Linked DNA regions of Homo sapiens. The protein of the gene in region 1 purifies or fractionates together with the protein of each later gene. This does not show direct contact. Each region holds a gene or a part of one and is shown on either strand. Other genes may lie near its edges.

The links.
Region 2: the proteins of EXOSC7 (region 1) and PARP8 purify together in Homo sapiens (affinity purification with mass spectrometry; one large-scale study listed by BioGRID and IntAct). This does not show direct contact.
Region 3: the proteins of EXOSC7 (region 1) and DDX46 fractionate together in Homo sapiens (co-fractionation; one large-scale study listed by BioGRID). This does not show direct contact.
Region 4: the proteins of EXOSC7 (region 1) and USP30 purify together in Homo sapiens (affinity purification with mass spectrometry; 3 studies listed by BioGRID and IntAct, with this or other methods). This does not show direct contact.
Region 5: the proteins of EXOSC7 (region 1) and LUM purify together in Homo sapiens (affinity purification with mass spectrometry, with the first as the bait; one large-scale study listed by BioGRID). This does not show direct contact.
Region 6: the proteins of EXOSC7 (region 1) and LRRFIP2 fractionate together in Homo sapiens (co-fractionation; one large-scale study listed by BioGRID). This does not show direct contact.
Region 7: the proteins of EXOSC7 (region 1) and RSRC1 purify together in Homo sapiens (affinity purification with mass spectrometry, with the first as the bait; one large-scale study listed by BioGRID). This does not show direct contact.

Annotation. Positions count from the first base shown.
Region 1 is NC_000003.12:45,003,744-45,007,243, reverse strand, and holds part of EXOSC7 (exosome complex component RRP42), read right to left. Parts: intron 1,954-3,500; coding exon 1,830-1,953; intron 1-1,829. UniProt on the Homo sapiens protein: Non-catalytic component of the RNA exosome complex which has 3'->5' exoribonuclease activity and participates in a multitude of cellular RNA processing and degradation events.
Region 2 is NC_000005.10:50,841,137-50,844,636, reverse strand, and holds part of PARP8 (protein mono-ADP-ribosyltransferase PARP8), read right to left. Parts: intron 2,672-3,500; coding exon 2,569-2,671; 3' UTR 1-2,568. UniProt on the Homo sapiens protein: Mono-ADP-ribosyltransferase that mediates mono-ADP-ribosylation of target proteins.
Region 3 is NC_000005.10:134,828,200-134,831,621, reverse strand, and holds the end of DDX46 (probable ATP-dependent RNA helicase DDX46), read right to left. Parts: intron 2,964-3,422; coding exon 2,916-2,963; 3' UTR 501-2,915; downstream 1-500. UniProt on the Homo sapiens protein: Component of the 17S U2 SnRNP complex of the spliceosome, a large ribonucleoprotein complex that removes introns from transcribed pre-mRNAs.
Region 4 is NC_000012.12:109,076,576-109,080,075, reverse strand, and holds part of USP30 (ubiquitin carboxyl-terminal hydrolase 30), read right to left. Parts: intron 1-3,500. UniProt on the Homo sapiens protein: Deubiquitinating enzyme tethered to the mitochondrial outer membrane that acts as a key inhibitor of mitophagy by counteracting the action of parkin (PRKN): hydrolyzes ubiquitin attached by parkin on target proteins, such as RHOT1/MIRO1 and TOMM20, thereby blocking parkin's ability to drive mitophagy.
Region 5 is NC_000012.12:91,105,312-91,108,494, forward strand, and holds part of LUM (lumican precursor), read right to left. Parts: coding exon 2,807-3,183; intron 1-2,806.
Region 6 is NC_000003.12:37,059,583-37,063,082, reverse strand, and holds part of LRRFIP2 (leucine-rich repeat flightless-interacting protein 2), read left to right. Parts: intron 1-3,500. UniProt on the Homo sapiens protein: May function as activator of the canonical Wnt signaling pathway, in association with DVL3, upstream of CTNNB1/beta-catenin.
Region 7 is NC_000003.12:158,123,589-158,127,088, reverse strand, and holds part of RSRC1 (serine/Arginine-related protein 53), read right to left. Parts: intron 3,224-3,500; coding exon 3,098-3,223; intron 1-3,097. UniProt on the Homo sapiens protein: Has a role in alternative splicing and transcription regulation. Involved in both constitutive and alternative pre-mRNA splicing. May have a role in the recognition of the 3' splice site during the second step of splicing.

The DNA.
Region 1 (3,500 bases):
ACAGGCCACTGTGTGGGTGGTACAATAAAAACACGATATGGAAAAACAGGGCAAGGTGGTTTAAAACTAGAATTCAGAGACCAACCAAGACAAAGGCCACCAAGGCTTTCCAACAGAGGGGCACAAGGGAGAAATTCACACACAAGGCCACATGGACGTTTCACTGATGGCAAGGGGGAATCAAGAGGGTCCATGCTAAGGGACACACTCAAGAACAAGCCAAAGGCTGGGCGCAGCGGCTCATGCCTCCCAGCACTTTGGGAAGCTGAGGAAAATGGAATGCTTGAGCTCAGGAGTTTGAGACCAGCCCAGGCAACATGGCAAGACCCTGTCTCCACCAAAAATACAAAAAAATAGCCAGATATGGTGGTGTGAGCCTGTGGTACCAGCTACTTGGGAGGCTGAGGTGGAAGGGTTGCTTGAGGTTGAGCCGGGGCGGGTGGGGGGGTTGCAGCAGAGGTTGCAGTGAGCCTAGATTGTGCTACTGCACTCCAGCCTGGGCAACAGAGCAACACTGTCTCAAAACAAGGCCGGGCGCGGTGGCTCACGCCTGTAATCCCAGCACTTTGGGAGGCCGAGGCGGGCAGATCATGAGGTCAGGAGATCGAGACCATCCTGGCTAACAAGGTGAAACCCCGTCTCTACTAAAAATACAAAAAATTAGCCAGGCGCGGTGGCGGGCGCCTGTAGTCCCAGCTACTCGGGAGGCTGAGGCAGGAGAATGGCGTGAACCCAGGAAGCGGAGCTTACAGTGAGCCGAGATTGCACCACTGCAGTCCGCAGTCCGGCCTGGGCGACAGAGCGAGACTCTGTCTCAAAAAAAAAAAAAAAAAAAAAAACAAATAAACAACAAGAAAGAACAAGCCGGCTAGGTGCGGTGGCTTATGCCTGTAATCCCGGCACTTTGGGAGGCTGAGGTGGGCAGATCACCCGAGGTCAGGAGTTTGAGACCAGCCTGGCCAACATGGTGAAACACCGTCTCTACTAAAAATACAAAAATTAGCCAGGCATGATGGCACGTGCCTGTAATCCCAGCTATTTGGGAGGCTGAGGCAGAAGAATTGCTTGAACCTGGGAGGCGGAGGTTGCAGTGAGCTGAGATCGCGCCATTGCACTCCAGCCTGGGCGTTGCAGCAAGACTGTCTCAAAAAAAAAAAAAAAAAAAAAAAAAAAAAGCCAAGACCCAACATCCTGCCATCCTGTTGTCTGAACACTTCACCACATCCTGTTCATGAAGTGATTTCAGTGGAATTAAACCTGACCTGTTTAGCTTTATTTTGAGATAATGAATCCTGAGTGGAATTAGCTACAATCCCAGTCAATAGCCAATACAGGCCTCTTTGCACAGCCTGGGGCAGCATTAGTTATATATCACATCAGCCTGATGTTCAGCTCCACAGCCCTCTATGTGAAAACCACTCATGATACCCAAGACCTGCTCCAACCTCCCATTTCATAGGGGGGACAGTGTTCGCCACCCTGCCACTACTCAACCACCCTAGACCCCATAGAGTTGAGGTAATTAAAAGACATGGTGCTTTAGTGAAGCACATGGTATGTGGAAGGAGCTTAACAAACTCTGGCTACTATTACTACAAACACACTCATGGCTCCCAGGACCACATCATATCTTCCAATTAAAAAGAAAAGAAAGAGCTACTCGTGGTAGTGGTTTCTAGTATAACCAAATTATTGGATTTGGGTAAAAGCTACTTCTATATGGTGTGTGGTATTACAACTTCTTAACTTATTAAGTAACCTCAGCAGGTTGGGATTAGAGGAGACCCACACCCACAGGGAAGACAAAAACCATAAAATACAAGTTATACCTTGCACAGAGTGACAATGCAGGGGACATTCTCCACACTTAGTCGTATGCAGTCATAAGGGTCATCTGACAATTCAATGTCCTTCGACCCCTCTTCATCCTCCAAAACTCGAACCCTTGGTATCCTGGAAGCAGAAGCACTAGTAAAATTCCCACTTGGAGGAGGAAAAATAACTTCTTTTTAAGATTGAGAATAGGAGTTGGAATCCCTGTGTCTCACAAGAGAAAGACACGCTATGCCTATTCTTTATCATCCTCATCCCTGTCATCCCTGTCAAAAGCACACAGGAGGCGCCGCAGTGCAATGAGGAAAGGCATCTTTTAGAAAATGATGCTGGGTCAATCAGATATCCCAATGGAAAAAAAAGAATCTCAATCCCTACCTCACACCACACACACGAAGCCATACCAAATAGACCATAGATATAAAAAATAAAAGACAAGACAATAAAGCATTTAGAAAAAAACATCTGCATGACCTTGGAGTAGACAACTATTTCTTGAACAGGATACAGAAAGAGAAAAAAGTTACATATTCAATTATAACATCATGAACTTCTGTATATCAGAAGACATCATTTAAAAACTAAAAATATAATCTGGGGAGATAAAATACTACCTGACAGATTACATAAAGAATTCCTATTAAACAAAAAAAAGACAGCCCAACAGAAAAATGGACAAAAGACTCAAACGTAGAATATATTTGGATGTCTTCATAAAAGAGGCTGTCTGAGTAGCCAATAAACCAAGAAAAGGTGCTCAATTTAAATATCTATTAAAAATGCAAATTAAAACTACACTGTGATACCAAGGCACAACCAAAATAACTATTAAAAAAAAAAACAAAAAAAAAAAAACGCCAGGCATGGTGGCTCATGCCTGTAATCCCAGTACTTTCAGAGGCCAAGGCGGGAGGATCACCTGAGGTCAGGAGTTCGAGACCAGCCTGGCCAAGATGGTGAAACCCCATCTCTACTAAAAATACAAAAATTAGCTGGGTGTGGTGGTGCACACCTGTAATCCCAGCTACTTGGGAGGCTGAGGTAAGAGAATCGCTTGAACCTGGGAAGTGGAGGTTGCAGTGAACTGAGATCACGCCACTGCAGTCCAGCCTGGGAGACAGAGTGAGACTCCATCTCAAAAAAAAAAAGCAAGAGTTGACAAAAATGTGAAACAACCCGGAACTCTTACATACACTGCTGGTGGAAGTGTTAACTGGTAAAACACTTTGTGAAACTGGCAGCATCTACCGTAACTAAAGATAGCCATACCCTATAACCCAGAACACTCCTCCCTAACAGAAATAGAGAAATATGTGCACCAAAGACATGCACAAAATGTTCATGATGCCCATCCCTATTTGTAATAGCCTCAAACTGGAAATGAACCAGATGGCCATCAACAGTAGACTGATAAACAACAGCAGACTGGACAGTAGACTGGATAAACAGCAGACTGGACAAAGTCACACAATGGAACACCATACAGCAAAAAGCAAGCTATGACTAAGGCAGCAACACAGATCTCTCAAAACACAATGCTTAGTGAATGAGGCAGACACAAAACAGAACATAGTATATGATACCATTTATATCAAGTACAAAAGTAATCTATTCTTTTAAGATGCTGGTTATCATCAGTGAGTGTAATTGCATGGGGGTACAGAAGG
Region 2 (3,500 bases), on another chromosome or scaffold:
ACCATTACAAAGCATTGGTGAACAGATTTCAAATAATTATAAAAACACAATACAATATCAAATGTTTGGAATCATCAAATAAGTGAATAGATAATATTTTAATGAATGACTGAATTAAAGCATGATAACAGTGTTCAAATCTCTAAATTGTATGGACCTGCTTGGATTTTGGAAGCACATTTATATGTTAATGGTAGTAATTGAAATTAGATTCTTTAGAAACACAGAAATTCATCTTTATCAGTTATTATAGTATCCCTAATTTCAAAAAGTTCAATTAAAAAATAAGATTGATTCTCCTTAGAATATTTGCTTACAAAGGTTCTGACGCAATTGTTTGAAACAAAATCTGTCATTCTGTATCATGATACAACTCAATTAACTGTCATAAGAAGACATCTTACTTTATTATCATAAAAGATGCCTAGCATTAAACTATCAACTACTTAATTTCCTCAGATAGGTGAACCTACTGTTATTCTTAAGTCAACAGGAACAGTTTGTATTATGCCAATTTTCCTTAAACGGTCTTTCTTGAGTCTTACGAGTTACCGTTCCAGTTCAGACTCCAATACTATATTCTTTACGGATCACTCCAATGTTAAGTAAAGCCATAATGGATTAGGTCAGTGGATTTTGAATTATGCTGGAGGCACTCTACAGAGCTTATTGGAGGTGCCTCAGTGGTCCTAGTGGTCAAACAGGTGGAGTTCCAAGATCCCGTCTCCCAAATCTTGATATTAGATCTTCATGTTTGTCATGTATAGACTGTCTAACGTATAGACTAATTTCAAAAAAATAATTCTGTTGCTTAAACATGTTTTAAAAACACAGTTGAAGTGATTTGGGAGACTTGCAGCATCTTGGCAAAAAAGTAGCAAGGTCCTCATGTCCCACACTAATCTTCAAATAAGTGGTCACAAAACACTGGATAGGATATTATATCTTTGCCCTACTCCACTACTATTATCCCTCAGCCTAGCCCAGGGTTCAGAGCCACAAGTCAAAACAGATCAATGCTTTAAGTAGATACTATCAAAATGATTAATATCCCAACCACTTCAAGCCTATTTTTCTTGCAGAAATAAGTGGCATATCAATTATTTGCAATATAACAAAACAAATTATTAGAAAACACTTCCTAAACTGCTACCCTTAACAACATGTATGACCTTTTTCTCACCTTTTATGCCAGACAAAGGAAATAAACACAGCAGTTATCACATTATACTTGCAAATGACTATACATTTTTATTTTTTTTTACATAAATTAAAATCAGATAGAGCCTTGATTCAGGGTTTGAATAGAGTGGCAGACTCACTAATTAAACTGCTTTCATGAATGGCCTTATTCCAAAGACAACATGTGGGAAAATAAACACTGTCAATTAAAACTTGATGAATAAGAACTCTAGGACTCAAAGAATAAGAAATGATTTTGATGAAATTATGACTCTTGAAAAGGAAATGCTGAGAGCTGGTGTTACTGTTCTCTATAAACTTATTTGTGGTCTTTTAATATAAAAGAAGCATCAAGTTTGTGTTCTTTCTCAATATGAAAAAAATAAGCAGAGATATTAGATGAACAAATATAAAAATGCTGGTGTGGCATAAATAAAATTGTATAATTTTTTTGTAGTAAATAAAAAATATATATGGTTTCTTTAAATTCTGAGGTCTTTCTTTTAAATACATAATCATTTGAATATAGATTCGGTCTACCAGGCCATGTATGTTCCCCAAATTATGACTTTTAGATAACATTTTAAAAGGGCTGAATTTCTTCAGACAAACAGAAAAATTGTCTGCAAATATTTTCAGTGAATGAATGGTGGTAAATCTGGCTCATATCTTGATTTATGTCCAAATTTATTGCTTACTAAATATTATCTTCTTTCCATTAAACGAGGATAGAATTGTGAAGCTAAGCCATCTTTCTTGTCAAAACATACGTGTGAATATACACAAATATATTCACAACCACACATTTTGATGCATGAATGTATAGATGTGTATATTACATACTTTTTGGCAAAGCACTGCTTCTAAGACCTACTTCTTTTTTTATGAAGAAAAATAGAATAGGGAACACCCCTTCCAAAACATTAGAATGCCCATACTACTAATGATATAGCACATCAGAATGTGCAAACAGTATACTTATTGCAAAGTATCTGATAGATTTAGATGCCATTATAAAATGTTCTCAATTCTATTTTGGTAACCTAAAATGTCGGTATATAATACCAAATATCCAGTTAAAGAGTTTAGTATAAAAATATCAGCACAAAACAGTTTTTTCAATCTGTTTATTGTATGAGCAACCCAAACTTCAGTTTAAGTGCTGTTGAAATTTTATTACTAGATTCCATAACCCTACAATTGATAAATCTTATACCATTTTAGGTATTTAATGAGATACTTAGAAATACTAAGAAAAAAAATCAGTATTCAAAGGGTTAATTTTGTTTATAATAACAATAAATAATTTTATAATCTTCTTCAGTTCAAAATCCAGCTTTGAACCCGAGGAAGGCTTTCGAATCATGTTAATTAAATGGTGGTCCTTTAACCAGTAGCAGTTTGATTACCAATTACTCGGAGGATCTCTTTGTGAATGCCTCCTTCTTGTGTATTAATATTTGCATCTCCCACTTGGCCGTCTTCATAGCTGAAATACAAAACATAAAAATATAAAAACATTTTAAAAGATGGCAGCATTTAAAACAGCTTAGAAATGCTATTTGATACCTAAAATATAGCCCAAGAGAATCAAAAGCAAATTATACGGTTGTTTTTCAGGTGTATTTAACAATGTGTTCTCATTGCGAAACACAGAACAGCCCATTCTATGTCATGCCTAAATTTTCCCCTTTCTTCCATTTTTTTTTTTTATCCCCGCATAAAAGACTGTCTGAGTTGCAAGAAGCTTCTCAGTGTCTTTGGCCTTGCAGGCATTTCCCATAGCAGCTGCTACGAAGTCTACTATAAAAAAATATAACAGCTTCAACTTTATGTTGCTAAGATTCTGGACTTCTTAATTCTACTCCTACTTCGATCATTTCTTTATTTTCTGACTGAAGACACTTCACTTTCTACCACTGCTTCTTTGCCATGCCTGCCTTCTAATAATTATTCAGCCATAATCAGTGCTGCCCTTTTTTCTTATCACTGGTCGCACTATTTAGTCTGACTGTAACATATTCTTATTTATTCTGGCAGTTCATAAAAGAATGCAAGCCTGCTAAGTTTACTTTATCAGTAGAAGGGAAAATATAATACTAAAGAACAGCAATTACTAAGTTCTTTAAAAAGAAATAGTTACATTTTAGATGGTAATTCATTTTTCTCAAATACAGTTACTTGGGCAATAAGAATTTCTTAAGAATGAATTTTCAAGCTTTCATGATCATATTCAGAGGGGAACAAGTGACAAATTAATTTTACTTCATAAAAATGGCTTCAAGACAGAAGCTTTAGAAAAGTGGTAATTACTTGAA
Region 3 (3,422 bases), on another chromosome or scaffold:
CTCCCGGGTTCAAGCGATTCGCCTGCCTCAGCCTCCCGAGTAGCTGGGATTACAGGCATGTGCCACCACACCTGGCTAATTTTGTATTTTTAGTAGAGACTGGGTCTCTCCGTGTTGGTCAGACTGGTCCTGAGCTCCTGACCCCAGGTGATCTGCCTGCCTCAGCCTCCCAAAGTGCTGGGATTACAGGCATGAGCCACCGCACCCAGCCTACATATCCATTTTGTAAGAGTGTCACTGTGGCAAAACCCCAACTGGTAAATGAACCTATTATTTCACCTATGTTTCTCTTATGCTAAATACAATGAACATAAAAGACTTAAGAGCCTTCTTCAGGAAGACATTTTTGGAACAGAATTATAAATATTTTGGGTAATAAGTTGCTAGAATTTTTTAAATAAAAATAGAGAGTATAATACTTCTCTCACCAACATAAACAAAATTAGAGAAACAGAAGAAAGAAAAAGCATTGAGGAAAGATAATTTTAAGAAAGTGCAGATTGAATTCGAATTAATTTTATTTTATAAGGAATTTAGAAAACATGAGCAAATATTCATATTGCATTAAAAAAACAAAGTCTATATATCATTCAAATTTTAAAAGTCAGTGTGACACTAAAAAATGTACTAACAAAGTAATATGTTTCATTTTAGAACAAAATTTTATCAGTGGCTCATCACAACTGATATACAAACAAAATGCTAAAATGATGTAAAACTGAATCTCAAAGTGATCCAGTTGGATGAAGGGAGCACCAATTATCATCGATGTGGGACTGCCATATACTCTACCAAAGAAAACAAACTACCATTAGGTGATAAAGATGAGCAAATAAATAAACTAGAGGGAGGGAATGAGCCCACAATTTCTGAAATTTTACAGTAAGTGGTTTATTTGTTTCTGTTGTTACATGTCTTTTGTCTGTTTTCTTCCTTCAAGAAATTAAGTGGATGTGTGAAGGATCCAAGAATATTTCCCAGGTATATCTTACTTTTTCAGGAAGAATAACTTTATACTGAAGAAATAATGATTAATACTCCCTATCACTTCAGCCACTGAATATACTATTAAAATTATTTGTTTTTACAACTATAGTATGCTTTTATTTATTTATTTTTAAACTGTAAGTCAATAATATTTAAAGAATGAAAGTCTCTTCATTTAAGAAATATACAGTCATCCTTTGGTATGAGAGGGGGACTGATTGCAGGACACCCCTTAAACCCCTCCTCTATACCAAAATCCATGGATGTTCAAGCCTCTTATATGAAATGGCTTGCTATATGCATATAACCGATGCACATCCTCCTGTATACTTTAACCGCCTGTATACTGTAACCTTTAAATTACTTAAAATACCTAACACAATGTAAATGTTATAGTAAAACTTTTACAGCTGTTAAACTGTATTTTTAAAATTTTACATTCTTTTTTTCTTTTTTTTTTTTTTTCTATTTTTGATCTGTGGTTGGTTTAATCTGTGGGTTTGAAACCCTTGGATATAAAAGACTGACTTTATTTAACTCCTGAAAAAAATTCCTTTTTTGAAAAGTGACAATAACATGAAGTTAATACATCAGGAGTCTTGAAAAGAATATTAGGTAATCCAATTATAACAATTTAAATTAGAATATTCAGGAACTGTATCTTGAAGGCTCAAAAATACTATTTATTTATTTATTTATTTATTTTTGAGATAGTCTCACTCTGTCGCCCAGGCTGGAGTGCAATGGTGTTATCTTGGCTCAGATTCTTCTGCCTCAGCCTCCTGAGTAGCTGGGATTACAGCCACCCACCACCATGCCGACTAATTTTTGTATTTTTAGTAGAGACAGGGTTTCACCATGTTGACCAGGCTAGTCTTGAACTCCTGACCTCAAGTGATCTGCCCACCTCGGCCTCCCAAATTGCTGGGATACAGGTGTGAGTCACTGCGCCCAGCCTCAAAAACACAATTTATGATTCCTTGTGAATTAAATTTCACTAAGATGAAGCACATCTAAGTTTAAAACTTGGGTACCATTATGTTTTACAATTTTTAAGAAAGAAAATTCACAACCTACTCAATAATCCTGAAGAAAAATCAGATTAAAAGTAGTAGGATATTTGTACATACAACATGTATAGATATATAAATAAACACTTTCTAGAAGGAAAAGGTATCATATTTAGTATTTATAGGCTACACTCTTTCTTTTAAGGAAGATTATAAAAGAGGGGCTAGGTATGGAGCCAGAAGTTGTGAGGGAAACCTCAAAGTAGTAAATACTATAACTCTTTGTAGAGTTTTACACTCAGTGTAAAGAAATGCAAAAAAATCCTTATACTATTAAATCTTTACTTGTATAAAAACCGAAATTAGTCCAACTACTTTTTGCCCATTTATGATGATAAAAATTGAAACAAAAACTCTCAACCCATTTTGTAAGACTTCTATTATAACATTCTTAAATCCAGTTCATATTGTTCCAGAGTCATGTAACATCAAGGTGGGGACACAAAATATGATAGTGAATTTTACCTTTTCTTAGGAAATGATCACAATTTCATTGAAAGTACAGGATAAAGTGAATAGCCCCTTAACGACTTGTGTACTTTATTGTCTTCAATAGAAAGTTCAAATATTTCCATTTTTTAAACCTCTAGAATATTATCCGGACATTTAAAATATTGATATTTGAGTTTACATTAAAGGACATCATACTCTGAAAACAGGCTGGCTTTAAATATAGTTTGACTGATTGTGGGGGTACTTACGGACAGATTTCTTTACCAAGTACCAGTTTCTTATATTTAAAAAAAATCAGCAAGATAGAATTTAAAAAATCTTCATTTACAATACATTGTAAACTGCAGACAGCAACTGCCACATACATCATAGACCAGCACAGGTAAAAATCTTTTTTCCGGATGTCTATAAGACTTTGTATCTTCCTTTATTTGTTGGTTGGTATGAATTTTGCTGTAATAGGAAATAAAAGATATGTCATCAGAGAAAGCAAAACAAAAAAAACAAAAAAAAAAAACGAACCAACCAACCAACCAAACAAACCCAAAAGGAAATATTTAAGATCATTTCCTTTGCCAACTTATAAAACTATTGGTTATTTAAAATTTTAAATGTTACTATTACTGCATTGAGAAAGGAAAAACTATTCAATAACTAATGAATTCTCTGTTCACTCAACTATTCCTTAACAACTATGTTTTGAATCAACCTAATGGTGGTAGCATCTATGGGCACAAGATTCTTTTCGACCACTCCTTGGTGAAATAGTATTAAGCACATGATTTAACAGCTGTTTTACTTTTTCCCTCTTGTTTTGTGAACCCACTTTTCATTAAACTTCTAACCACCCCCACCCCCCAACAAAAAAAGGAATGCTCTGTGAGGGGAATTTTAGAAAAGCTCTCAGAATTA
Region 4 (3,500 bases), on another chromosome or scaffold:
AAGCTAAAAAAACTGAGCAGAGATTTTGCTGCCCAATGTAGGGGAGACAGAGTTGAGTTTGAGCCCAGCCAGGTTAACTGCAGGCCAGAAGAAAATTAATTTTTCTTCATAGATATGTAACAGAATCCCTACTCTCTATGTCTCTATTATGATGTTAAGCATACAATAAAAAATTACCAAACATAAAATACAAAGAAGTCAGCACACGAGGACCTCACAGATGTATCATAAATATGCTCAAGGATGTAAAGGAAAATATACAGTGACAGTGAATGAACAAATTGAGAATCTCAGAACAATGGAAACTATTAAAAAGAAGGCAATGGAAATTCTATAACTAAAAACAACAGTGATTACGATGAAAAATTTGTTGCATAGGCAAACAGAGATTGGAGATGAAAAAAGAATCAGGCCAGGTATGGTGGCTCACACCTGTAATCCCAACACTTTGGGAGGCTGAAGTGTAAGGATCACTTGAGCCCAGGAGTTCAGGACCAACCTGAGCAACACAGTGAGACCCTGTCTCTACAAAAAATAAAAAAAAATTAGCTGGGTGTGGTGGCACACACCTGTAGTCCCAGCTGCTCAGGGGGCTAAGGTGGGAGGATAACTTGAGCCTGGGAGGTTGAGGCTGCAGTGAGCTATGATCACATTATTGCAATCCAGCCTCGGTGACAGAGCTAAGACCCCTGTCACAAAAAAAAAAAAAAAAAAAAAAAAAAAAGAAAAAAAAAAAGAAAAAGAAAAGAAAAAAAGAGAAAAAAGAATCAGTGAACGTGAAGATAAGTCAATAGAAATGATCTAATTTAAAGAACACACAGAAGAAAGATTGAAGAAAATTGAACAAGACCTCAGTGACCTGTGGGCCAACATTAAGTAAAATAACAAGTGAAAAATGGGCATAAAATCTTTGTTGAAAAAATAACAGCCAAGAATTTTCAAACTTGGTTAAAAAAAGTACAAATTTAAGAAACTCAGCAAACCCCAAACAAGATAAATAAGATAAATACTAAGAAAACCACATCTATGCGCAGCATGAACAAAAATAAAGAGAAAATTTTGTAAGCAGTGTAAGCAGAAGAAAAACAAATGACAATTTACATAGACAAGAATGATATAAATGACACTAACTGAGAAAATGGAGGCCAGAAGACAATAGAACAATGTCCTTAAAGTGATGAATTTAAAATAAACCAAAGCAAAACCACGGCAACACTGTCAACCCAAAGTTCTATATCCAGCAGTAGTATTCTTCAAAAATGAAGGCAAGACAAAAACATTTTCATATACATGAAATCTAAGTGTATCTGTCAGCAGTACACCTATAACAAATGTTAAAAGGAAGTTTTTAGGCCAAAAGGGAAAAAACATCAAATGGATTTTGATCTACAAGAAAGACTGAGAACAAGAAAAATGGTAAACATATTTTTCTATTAATTAATTAGTAGAAGAGAAGGCAACTCTTTTTTTTTTTTTTGAGATGGAGTCTCGCTTTGTCGCCCAGGCTGGCATGCAGTGGTGTGATCTCGGCTCACTGCAACCTCTGCCTCCCAGGTTCAAGCAATTCTCCTGCCTCAGCCTCTTAAGAGAAGGCAACTCTTGCATACTACTGGTGGGAATGTAAACTGGTGCAGCTATTTTTTTTTTTTTTTGAGACTCAGTCTCACTCTGTCGCCCAGACTGAAGTGCAGTGGCGTGATCTCGGCTCACCACAACATCGGCCTCCTGGGTTCAAGCCATTCTCCTGCCTCAGCCTCCCGAGTAGCTGGGATTACAGACGCCCGCCACCAGGCCCAGCTAATTTTTGTAATTTTAGTAGAGACGGGGTTTCACCATGTTGGCCATGCTGGTCTTGAACTCCTGACCTCGTGATCCACTCGTCTCAGCCTTCCAAAGTGCTGGGATTACAGACGTGAGCCACAGCACCTGGCTGGTGCAGCTATTATGGAAAATTGTACGGAGGAGGTTCCTCAAAAAGTTAAGAACAGAACTACTGTATGAACTAGCAATACCACTTCCAGGTATATATCCAAAGGAAATGAAATGAAACACATATAACTCTTTAAAGCAAAAACTATGACACAGTATTGTGAGGTTTATAATGTATGTATAATAGCACAAAGGCTGGGGTAACAGAACTATACTTTTGTAATATTCCAGGATTTTACATGAAGTATAATATTAACTCTAAATAGAATGTGATAAGGTAAAACTGCATAACGTAATCTCTCACACACACCCTCCCCCCCCAACACAAACACACAAGAGTAAAGCTAAAAGGCCAACAAAGGTATTAAAATGGAATACTAAAAAGTATTCCATTAACCTGAAAGAAGCCAGTGAAGGGGGAACAGAGGAACAAGAAAATATGTAAGACAAACAGAAAACAAATGGTAAAATGGCAGACCTAAATCTAATCACATCAATACTTACATTAAATGTAAATGGACTAAGCATTCCAACTAAAAGATTGTCAAGCTAGTTAAAAAAGCAAGACCCATTATATGCTGTCCACAAAGTCACACTTTAAATACAAAGGCCGAAAATGACAGAAAGAAATGACCAAATAAACATTAGCTAGATTAAAAATGAATCATTCAAATAGACTTCAAGTCAAGGAGTCTTAGCAGAGATGAAGAGGGACAATTTATCATGACAAGATGAGTTAACTCATCATAATACATATGCTTGTATCCAATAACAAAGTTTAAAAAAAATTAGCAGAAATAGAGCTAAAGAAAAGACAAATTTTAGCAAACAAGCAAGAAATAATACCAATATTAAACAAAATCTTTCAGTAAACAGAGGAAGGAACATTTTCCAGCCTATTTTATGAGGCTAGTATAATCCTTATAACAAAGCCTGACAAAGACATCACAAGAGAAGAAAAGTGTAAGAACAATATTCCTCATAAACACAGATACTAATATCCTTTAGGAAATATTAGCAAATCAAATTCAATAATATATAAAAACAATAAAGCATCATGATCAAGTGGGGTTTATCCCAGAAAGGTTGGTTTAACATTAGAAAAATCAATCACTGGCTGGGCACAGTGGCTCATGCCTGTAATCCCAGCACTTTGAGAGGCTGAGGCAGGCGGATCACGAGGTCAGGAGATCGAGACCATCCTGGCTAACACGGTGAAACCCTGTCTCTACTAAAAAATACAAAAAATTAGCCGGGCGTGGTGGCGGGCGCCTGTAGTCCCAGCTACTCGGGAGGCTGAGGCAGGAGAATGGCGTGAACCTGGGAGGTGGAGCTTGCAGTGAGCCGAGATCACGCCACTGCACTCCAGCCTGGGCGACAGAGCAAGACTCCGTCTCAAAAAAAAAAAAAAAAAGAAAAAATCAATCACTGTAATTCACCAAGTCAACAGAATAAGACTAAAATATGATCATTTCAATGGATGCAGAAAAAACTGACAAAATCCAATCACTATTCATTACAAAAATTCTCAGCAAACTAGGAACAGAAGGGAAGTTTGTCAGTATGATAAA
Region 5 (3,183 bases), on another chromosome or scaffold:
ACCGTGTTGCATGAAGATTAAATTAAGTTGTGTAGAGCACTTCACACAATACTAGTACATAGTATGTCCTAAATAATGACTAATATCCTTTTGATTTTGCTGTCTTTCTAAATTACTCTACACTAGGAAGATCTCTGATTGGGCTAATGCTTAGAGTTGCAAGTTTGAAATAGAAAACAGTTTGTTTTGGCTATATATTCCCTAATATTAGAAAAAAACATTGAGGGGAACTTTCTGTATTAAGTGAATGTGAAATGTTGATATAGTTGATTATTATCTGGCAAAATAACCTAAACTGAGGTGATACATAAAAAGACAAGGAGAATACCTGACTAAATGTACAAAGATAAGGAAGAAAGAAAGGAAACTATTATGTTACCTTTTCAAATGACCACTATGTACTGGGCACTGTGGTTTCTATCTCAGCTTGGCACTGACAGGCCGTTGGCCTTTCTCCCATAGACCTCTCTTCCATCCTTTACTCATGCAATGTATACCTTCAAATGTGCCTACTTCTGTATCCTTCTTTGTTTCAGAGAAAGAAGTAGCCCTGCTCTTACGAATAATCTCTACCCACCAAATCTAATGTACTCCGTCATCCCTTAAGCATCGTAAATTCCTTTAGCATTTTGGTCTGTCAGAGAGTATCCTTCCTCCTAACCACATATGTTTAAAATGAGGAATCACATATGGCCACATAGTGAATTTTCCACTGGAAACAACAAGAGGGGTTTAGCTGTGTTAGCCTGACTGTGTATTGTGTGACAGTCAAACAGCACCAACCCTTACCTTGGCTGCTTTTCAGAAACAACAAAGAACATGTGGAGCTTCAGAGTTGGCGAGTATGGTCTTCTTTATGAAAACGTTTAACCCTACTAGAGGTTATATGAAACTGGCAGAATTAACAAACATCATATGCATAAAATATATTGTAATATTTTCTGACAGCAATACCTTTATTCAGCATGGCCAGAAAACCAATTTTCATCATGTAGAGATGTTCAAATTCAATAGATTATTTTGCAGACATTATTACTTTATATGTGAATCAATGTTTCCTGCTTGATTTTTTCATTTAGAAAGCCTTATCTGTGAATCATGGTTTTTCTCTTCTACCAAGCTCTGCCAAAGATTAATGGCAGAGTTATCCTGGTAGGAAATGGTGGATTTCAATTTCCCATTGGAATCTATACTGCTTAAGTTGAAGAATGTCCCTGAAGACCACATAAGTGCATAAGCAGTCCAAATGCATCAGATCAAACTTCATCCAGAAGATAAATGAAAAATAAAGAGAGGAGAAAGAGAAAGTGTGGAAATATCAAATGAGGGGCAGGATTGTACCCAAGAAAAAAAAAGCTCTGTAACACTATTTTTCTTCTAAAAAAAAAAAAAAAAAAAAAGATGTTAGAATCTCCCATCATATTTCTTTTTCTCTTTAATCTTCTTCACAGTCCTCCAGAGCACTGTGATGGCCACACACCATAACAGAGATAACAGAGGCAGATGATGATCATGACAGCAGAGTAACATGGTGAGTCCCAAGTAGTTGATGTCAGGGAAGACCATGAGACTATATGGGGCCAGGCACAGTGGCTCACGCCTGTAATCCCAGTACTTTGGGAGGCCAAGGCAGATGGATCAGTTGAGGTCAGGATTTTAAGAACAGCCTGGTTAACATGGTGAAACCCCATCTCTACTAAAAACATAAAAATTAGCCTGGTGGTGGTGGTGGCCTGAGGTGGGAGAATCGCCTGAGCCTGGGGGGTGGAGGTTGCAATGAGCCGAGATTGCACCACCTCACTCCAGTCTGGGCGACAGAGTGAGACCCTGTCAAAAAAAAAAAGAAAGAAAGAAAGAAAGAAAACGAAAGAAAGAAAGAAGGAAAGAAAAAGAAAGAAAGAAAGAGAGAAAGAAGAAAGAAAGAAAGGAAAGAAAGAAAGAAAGAAAGAAAGAAAGAAAGAAAGAAAGAAAGAAAGAGAAAGAAAGAAAGAAAGAAAGAAAGAAAGAAAGAAAGAAAGAAAGAAAGAAAGAAAGGGAAAGAAAGGAAGGAAGAAAGAAAAAGAGAGAGAGAGGGAGGGAGGGAGGGACAATATGGGCTTCTTTGTGGCTATGGAGTTTGCCAACTGTGCCACTTTTGAACTCATTTCTTCCTCCCTCATCTAGATCTTGTCAAAAAATAAATGTAGGACACAAATCTAAGCCATAAAGGAGAAAATAATAAGAGATATATATGAGGAGGTAACACAGCAGGATGAGTTGGCCCGGAATTTTTAGTTTGAAGACTTACATATTAAATTCTGTGACCTTAATTGTTCCTTATCTGGATACACCAAAGAAAGGCTGGATATTGGATATATGATTGAGCTAGAATTATTCTTTGTTTGAAGTAGAGGGATATTTTGTGGACATTTTTTTTTTTTCCAAGACAGAATCTGGCTGTCTTGCCCAGGCTTGAGTACAGTGGCACGATCTCGGCTCACTGCAACCTCTATCTCCCAGGTTCAAGCAATTCTCCTGGCTCAGCCTCCTGAGTAGCTGGGATTACAGAAGTGCGACACCACGCCTGGCTAATTTTTGTATTTTTAGTAGAGATGGGGTTTCATCATGTTGGCCAGGCTGGTCTCAACTCCTGACCTGGTGATCCGCCCACTTCGGCCTCCCAAAATGCTGGATTTACAGGAATGAGCCACAGCGCCCGGGCGACATTTTGTTTTTTTAATGGAGCCAGATGCAATATCTGTGTTGTGCAGCCCAGGTATTTAAACACTTGAGCACACATCAAACACAGGAACAGCTTTTTACTTACTCTCAAGTTGATTGACCTCCAGGTAATAGTTTTCAAGGTTTTCATTGACAGTTGGTATGTTTTTAAGCTTGTTATAGGACAGATCCAGCTCAACCAGGGATGACACATTGAAAGAATTTCCAGGTATTCCACTATCAGCCAGTTCGTTGTGAGATAAACGCAGATACTGCAATGCATTAAAACGCTTGAAATACTCATCAGGGATGTTGCTGATCTTATTGTTGTCTAAGTAGAGAGTTAGAAGAGAGACAGGGAGACCAGAAGGCAGTCTGGCTATCTGATTGAAGCTCAAGTCAAGGTATTCGAGTGATTTAAGACCTTTAAAAGCAGCTGAAACAGCATCCTCTTTCAGCCGATTGTGCTGGAGATGGATGAAG
Region 6 (3,500 bases), 7.9 Mb from region 1:
CCAAGAGTAGATTAATCCCACTCAGTATTTTCAGATGCATCTGGTGTTATTTCAGTTCCAGTTTGTTGAATCTTGGTGCATCTGACTTGTCCCTTTCTAAACTAGTGACTTGCCCTCTCGGTACATAGATGTGGTCACCCTTCATTGGCATCTGGAGATTTTCTTTGCATGTGATTTAGGTTGGGTTCCCTTTTTCCGGTGTCTCATGCCTTTCTCCTTATTTATTCTCTTATTTTGGTACATCTTCCAGTAGCTTCCTGAGAAGAGGGTTTGTGGATTGTTAATTTTTCATGACCTTGCAGGCCTGAAGATGTCTTCATTCTACCCTCTCACTTGATTAAAATAGTTTGGCTGGGTAGAGAATCCTGAGTTGCCATGGTTCTCCTTAAGATTTTTTAAAAGGACATTTCTTCATTGTGCTGTGACTTCGAGCATGGCTGTTGAGTTTTCATGAACATTTTGAGTTCTGATCTTTTCTGATTTGTGATCTATTTTTCTCCTCTTTGTGGAAGCTTGTATCCTATTCTCTTTCTCTCTAGCATTCTGGTGTAATTTGAAGATAGTCATGTGATTTGAAGTTTTCATGTGTGATGCTGGGCCCCTGTCAATTCTAGGAGCTCCCATCCTTTAGTTCTGGGAAAATTTCTTGAATGATTTTGTTACTGATTTTTTTCCCCTCCCATATGCTGTGTTCTCTATTTTGGAACTCCTATTCAGTCATTCAACAAATGTTGAGTGAGATTCTACTATTTAACATGCACTATTCTAGGCACTGGGATATTTCAGTGAATAAATTAGTTTAGAAAAAAAAAATTCCTGCCTGAGAGGCATTCTAGTAGGAAGACATCAGACAATATTATATGATATGTTAGAAGGTTTGTGTGAATGCATTTATTATATGTGTTTCTCTGGCTACTTACAGCAGCATAGGGGCAGGCATGGAGTGGGTAGAGAGCTAGATTTTACTAGGACAGTATTAATGGGGCAGGAGAGGTGAGGGAGTATGTAAGAAAATGATTATAATGATGGACCTTGAAATTAAACTGGATGAAGAGGATTCGGGAGATATTCAGGAACACATCAAGGTATAGTAGAAAGAAGATGTAATCTGTAGATTAGTGGTACCAGTGTGGTTGAAGGGTTGTTGGAATTCGGGTCTAGAGAGAATGACCTGGAAAGATGAGGAATAGTGGTTAGAGAGAGGATACATGGAACTAAATTGTGTAGGGATTACAATTGTCTAATGATGAGATCTGGTATATGACTGTGGGAGTGAGTAGCTGAGGGCAAGAAGGGATAGATAGCAAGATCCTTGGAAGGGAGGTGGGTTAGTCCATTTTTTGCTTCGCTATAAAGGAATACCTGAGGCTGGGTAATTTATAAAGAAAAGATGTTTGACTGGGCACAGCAGCTCATGCCTGTAATCCCAGCACTTTTGGAGGCTGAGGCAGGTGGTTGAGGTCAGGAGTTGAGACCAGCCTGGCCAACATGGTGAAACCCCAACTCTACTAAAAATATACAAAAATTAGCCGGGCATGGTGGTGGGTGCCTGTAGTCCCAGCTACTTGGGAAGCTGAGGCAGGAGGGAGGTGGAGGCTGCAGTGAGCCAAGATTGCGCCACTGCACTCCAGCCTTGGGTGGCAGAGTGAGACTTTGTCTCAAAAAAAAAAAAAAGGAAAAAAGAAAAAGAAAAAGAAAAGAGGTTTAAACTGGCTCATGGTTCTGCAAGCTGTAGAGGAAGTATGTTGTCAGCATCTGCTCAGCTTCTGAGCTCAGTTTCCTGAGGCCTCAGGCCAGGCTGGTCTTGAACTCCTGACCTTAGGTGATCCACCCACCTCGTCCTCCCAAAGTGCTGGGATTACAGGCATGAGCCACCGCGCCCAGCCAGCCTCAGGAAACTTCTCATCACGGCGGAAGGTGAAGGGGCAGCAGGCACGTCATATCTCGAGCGGAAGCCAGAGAGAGTGGGGAGGTAACATACACTCTTAAACAACCAGATCTTGTGTGAACTACCAGAGCGAGAACTCACTCATCACCAAGGGAATGGTGCAAAGCTATTCATGAGGGATCTGCCCCATGACCCAGATACCTCCTGCCAGGCCCCACCTTCAGCACTGGGGAATACATTTCAACATGAGATTTGGAGGGGACAGACATCCAAACCGTAAGAGGAGATATACCAGAAATTGAGAGATCATTTGTAAGGGAGATCCTCTACTTAGATGTACATTGAAATTGCCAAAAATTAAGACAGGAATAGTCTAGAGGGAGTGCAAGTTGGGAGCTATTTAATAAATGGTGATGAAGGAATGGGATTTTGGCAATGATAAGTAGTTAGTGTATATAATTTGAAGAGACGAGATTAAGACCTGGGACTTTTAGGGAAGATGGAGGGAAAATACCAGCAAGGAAAGCAAGAGGACACCTATTCCATTTCTAGATTCAGTGGTAGGAAGCTGTGGAAGTACAAAAAAAAAAAGGGCCGGGCATGGTGGCTCATGTCTGTAATCCCAGCACTTGGGGAGGCCAAGGTGGGTGGATGACTTGAGGTCAGGAGTTCAAGACCAGCCTGGCCAACATGACGAAACCCCATCTACTAAAAATACAAAAATTGGACGTGGTGGCATGCACCTGGAATCCCAGCTACTCGGGGGGCTGAGGCAGGAAAATCGCTTGAACCCGGGAGGCGGAGGTTGCAGTGAGCTGAGATCATGCCACTGCACTCCAGTCTGGGCCACAGAGCGAGACCCTGTCTCAAACAAACAAACAAAACAAAACAAAACAAAACAAAAACAGTGTTTGAGAGAGCTGCAGAAGCAGCAGGAGAGGGTTATCAGAGCACGAGGGTAAAGGGGGGATGCTCAGAAAAGACTGAGGACAGAGGGTGTTTGCTGATGATGGACTGATAATTCTAGAGGGCCCAGTGGAAAAGTTTCAGGCATTGGGAAAGGTTAGGAGATGAAGGTTAGTGGTCGTACAGACCCTTGTGAGGAAGACTGCAGAGGAAGGATATGACCCTTTGTGAGATGCACATAAATAGGAATGATGGAGATACTGAGATTTGTCCTGGTTCCCTCAAGGCAGCTAATGATGGTGACCCTGTGTGTTGAAAGGGCAGAGGTGCCTGGGAAGTATAGAGTTAGTCCCAATATAGAGCTTACCCTTTTCCCATTGGGGAGTGGCAAACTTAATCTTAGTGCAGAGGCCTCCCTTTGACCCCTGTTGGTGGAGTTAAGGACAGCTGGGGAAGCCATCTCTATGTATCCAATTATTATTATTATTATTTTTTTTTTTTTTGAGACAGAGTCTCGCTCTGTCACCAGGCTGGAGTGCAGTGATGTGATCTCCACTCACTGCAACCTCCACCTACCAGGTTCAAATGATTCTCCTGCCTCAGCCTCTGGAGTAGTTGGGACTACATGCGCGTGCCACCATGCCCCACTAATTTTTGTAGTTTTAGTAGAGATGGGGTTTCACCATGTTGGCCAGGATGGCCTCGA
Region 7 (3,500 bases), about 110 Mb from region 1:
TATAATCTAATTAACAAAAGTTAAAGGCAAAGAGAGAATCTTGAAAGCAGCAAGAGAAAAGTAAATCGTCATACACAAGGGAGCTTTCATAAGATTTCAGCAATTTTGCAGAGGAAACATTACAAGCCAGAAAGGAATCAGGTGATATATTCAAAGTGCTGAAAGCAAAAAACAAAAACAAAAACAAAAACAAAAACAAAAACAAAAACAAAAAAAACCCTGTCAATCAAGAACACTATATCAAGCAAAATTGTTCTACAAGAACAAAAGACAAATCAAATCTTTCCCAGATAAACAAAAGCTAAGGGAGTTCTTCACTACCAGACCTGCCTTACAAGAAATACTAAGAGGAGTCCTGCAAGTGGAAATGAAATGACACTAGACAGCAACACAAAAGTACATGAAAACATAAAGCTCACTGGTAAAGGTAAATATATACACAAGTACAGAGTACACTAACACTGTAATGGTGGTATGTAAAACATTTTTAATTCAGATATAGAATTGAAAAGATGACAGTATAAAAAATAACTAACTATAAGCTATATTAATGGATACAATAAGATGTAAACTGTGATATCAATAACATAAAATAGAAGTGGAGAAACATACAAGAGCAGTATTTTTGTATAAAGTCAAAGGTTATTACCAACTTAAAAGACAATGTTTTGTGTAAGCCTCATGGCAACCACAAAGAAAATACCTATAGAACATATACAAAATAAAATCAGAAAAAAAATCATAGCATGTCAATACAAAAATCAACAAAACAAAAAGGAAGGCAGCAGGAGACATGAGAGACAAAATAGCTATAAGGCAGAAAACAATCAACAAAATGGCAACAGTAAGTCCTTCCCCATCAGTAATTATTGTAAATGTAACTGGATTAAACTCCCCAAACAAAACACACAAAAGTAGCTGAATGAATTTTTCAAAACACACACTCATACACACAAAATACAATTACAGTATATGCTGTTTACAAAAGATGTGCCTTAGATGTAAAGACACACATATACTGAAAAAGATGAAAAAGATAATCCATACAAATGGTACAAAAAAAGAGCAGAAGTGGCCATACTTACACAAGACAAAATAGACTTTAAGTCAAAGACTGTCACAAGAAAAAAAGAAAATTATATAATGATAAATGGGTCATTATTCTGGAATATATAACAATTATATATATATGCACCTAACACCAGAGCACTCAAATATATAAAGTAAACATTGCCAGAATGGAAGGGAGAAGTATTTAGTAACATAGTAATAGTAGGGTATTTCAATAATCCACTTTCAATAATGGACAGAAAAATAAGACATAAGAGGACCTGAACAACACTACAGATGAATTAGACCTAACATAAATACACAGAACACTCCACACAACAGCAGCAAAATATGCATTCTTCTCAAGTGTACATGGAACATTCTCCACGACAGATTTCATGTTAGGCCACAAAACAAGTCTTAACAAATTTAATAAGACCGAAATCATAGCAAGTATCTTTTCGAAACACAAAGAAATGAAACTAGACATCAATAGCAGTAGAAAAATCAGAAAATCCACAAATATGTAGAAATTAAACTACACACTCTTGAACAACCAAATACACCAAAGAAGAAATCATAAGAGAAATTAGAAAATACCTTTAAACAAATGAAAACACAAACACACATAGTAAAACTTAAGAGAAACAGCAAAAGCAATACTGAAAGGAAAGTTTTAGCATGAACACCTACATTTAAGAAAAAAAGAAAAGTCTCATATCATACTTAATACTTCAAGGAACTAAATAAAGAACAAATTAAACCAAAAATTATCCAAAGAAAGAAAATAAAAATGATTAGAGAAAAAAATAAATAAAATAGAGAACAGAAAGACTTTAGAAAAAAATCAACAAAACTAAGAGTTTTTTGAAAAACAACAACAAAATTAACAAGTACTTAGTTAGATTAAGAAAAAATGAGGCCGGGCAAGGTAGATCATACCTATAATGCCAGCACTTTGGAAGGATAAGGTGGGAGGACCAGTTGACACCAGGAGTTGGAGACTAGCCTGGGCAATATGGTAAGACTGATTTCTACAAAACATATTTTAAAAAGTCAGCCAGGCCTGGTGGTGTATGCTTGTATTTCTAGCCACTTAGGAGACTGAGGTGAGAAGATCATTGAGCCCAGGAGTTTGAGGCTGCAGTGAGCTGACTGCACCAATACACCCAAGCCTAGGTGACAGAGCAACACCTCACCTCCAAAAAAAAAAAAAAAGAAAGAAAGAAAAAGAAAAAATACCAGAAGCGTAATAACTAAAATCAGAAATGAAACAGCAGACATTACAGTTGATGCCACAAACATTGAAAGGATTATAAAAGACTACTAAGAATGCTAATAAACTGGATAACCTAGAAAAAGTGGATAAATTCCTAGAAACATACCACCTACCAAGACTGAATCATGAAGGAAGAGAAAATCTTAACAGACGTATAACTAACAAGGAGATTGAATCAGTAAGCAAAAACCTTCTAACAAAGAAAAGCCCAGGAGCAGATAGCTTCACTGCAGAATTCCACCAAACATTTAAAAAGAAATTAATGTCAATCCTTTTCAAAATCTTCCAAAAAAACTGAAAAGGAGGGAGTACTTCCAAACTCATTTTATCAGGCCAGCATTACTCTGATACCAATGCCAGACAAATATATTACAAGAAAACTGCAAGCCATAAGTCCCTGATGAATACTGACGCAAAAATCCTTAACAAAATACTAGTAAACTCATGTCTGGGGAACGCACGTGCTACCACCACCGGGCTGAAAAAAAGAAACCCAATCTAGCCTACTGGACAATGAGAAGCCACGTACACCCCGGCCAATAGCCAGAACCAAATGCAAGATATATGAGTGAGGCCACATTAGACCATCCAGTTCCAATCAAGCTATCAGATGACTAACTGCATGAATGACCCCAGGTGAGAAAAAAATAAGTGCCAGCTAAGCTCAATCAAAATTATATAATTATAAGAAAATAAATGATTGTTGCTTTACATCGCTGAATTTGGGAATAATTTGTTACAAAGCAATAAATACTTAATAAGGCATACCTTCTTGTTCTGCTTTTTGACCTAGACCTCTGAACTCTATAGGATTTCCCTCGACCCCTTGAACGACTTCGACTTCGTTTCCTTCTGGAGCCATAAGAAGAGCTACTGCTTGATCGATGCCTGCGTCTGAAATAAAATATAATCAAAGATCACTGCTATAAAAATTTTTATTATGAGCATTAAGGAAAAACCTTCTAGATTCTAAAGAATCATCTGATTTTTACTGTCTCACTGTTTCCTGGAAGCAAACAGAGATAAATTAAAATGTTATTTCTCTTGAACAGTCATATGACTGGTTCATAACTTAGTGATTGGATCAGTACTAATTAAGGTATTAAGGGTCTTAGAATCTTTCCAAATATCATCAGATTATATGGTATGAAAACTAAACCAAGGCCAGGCT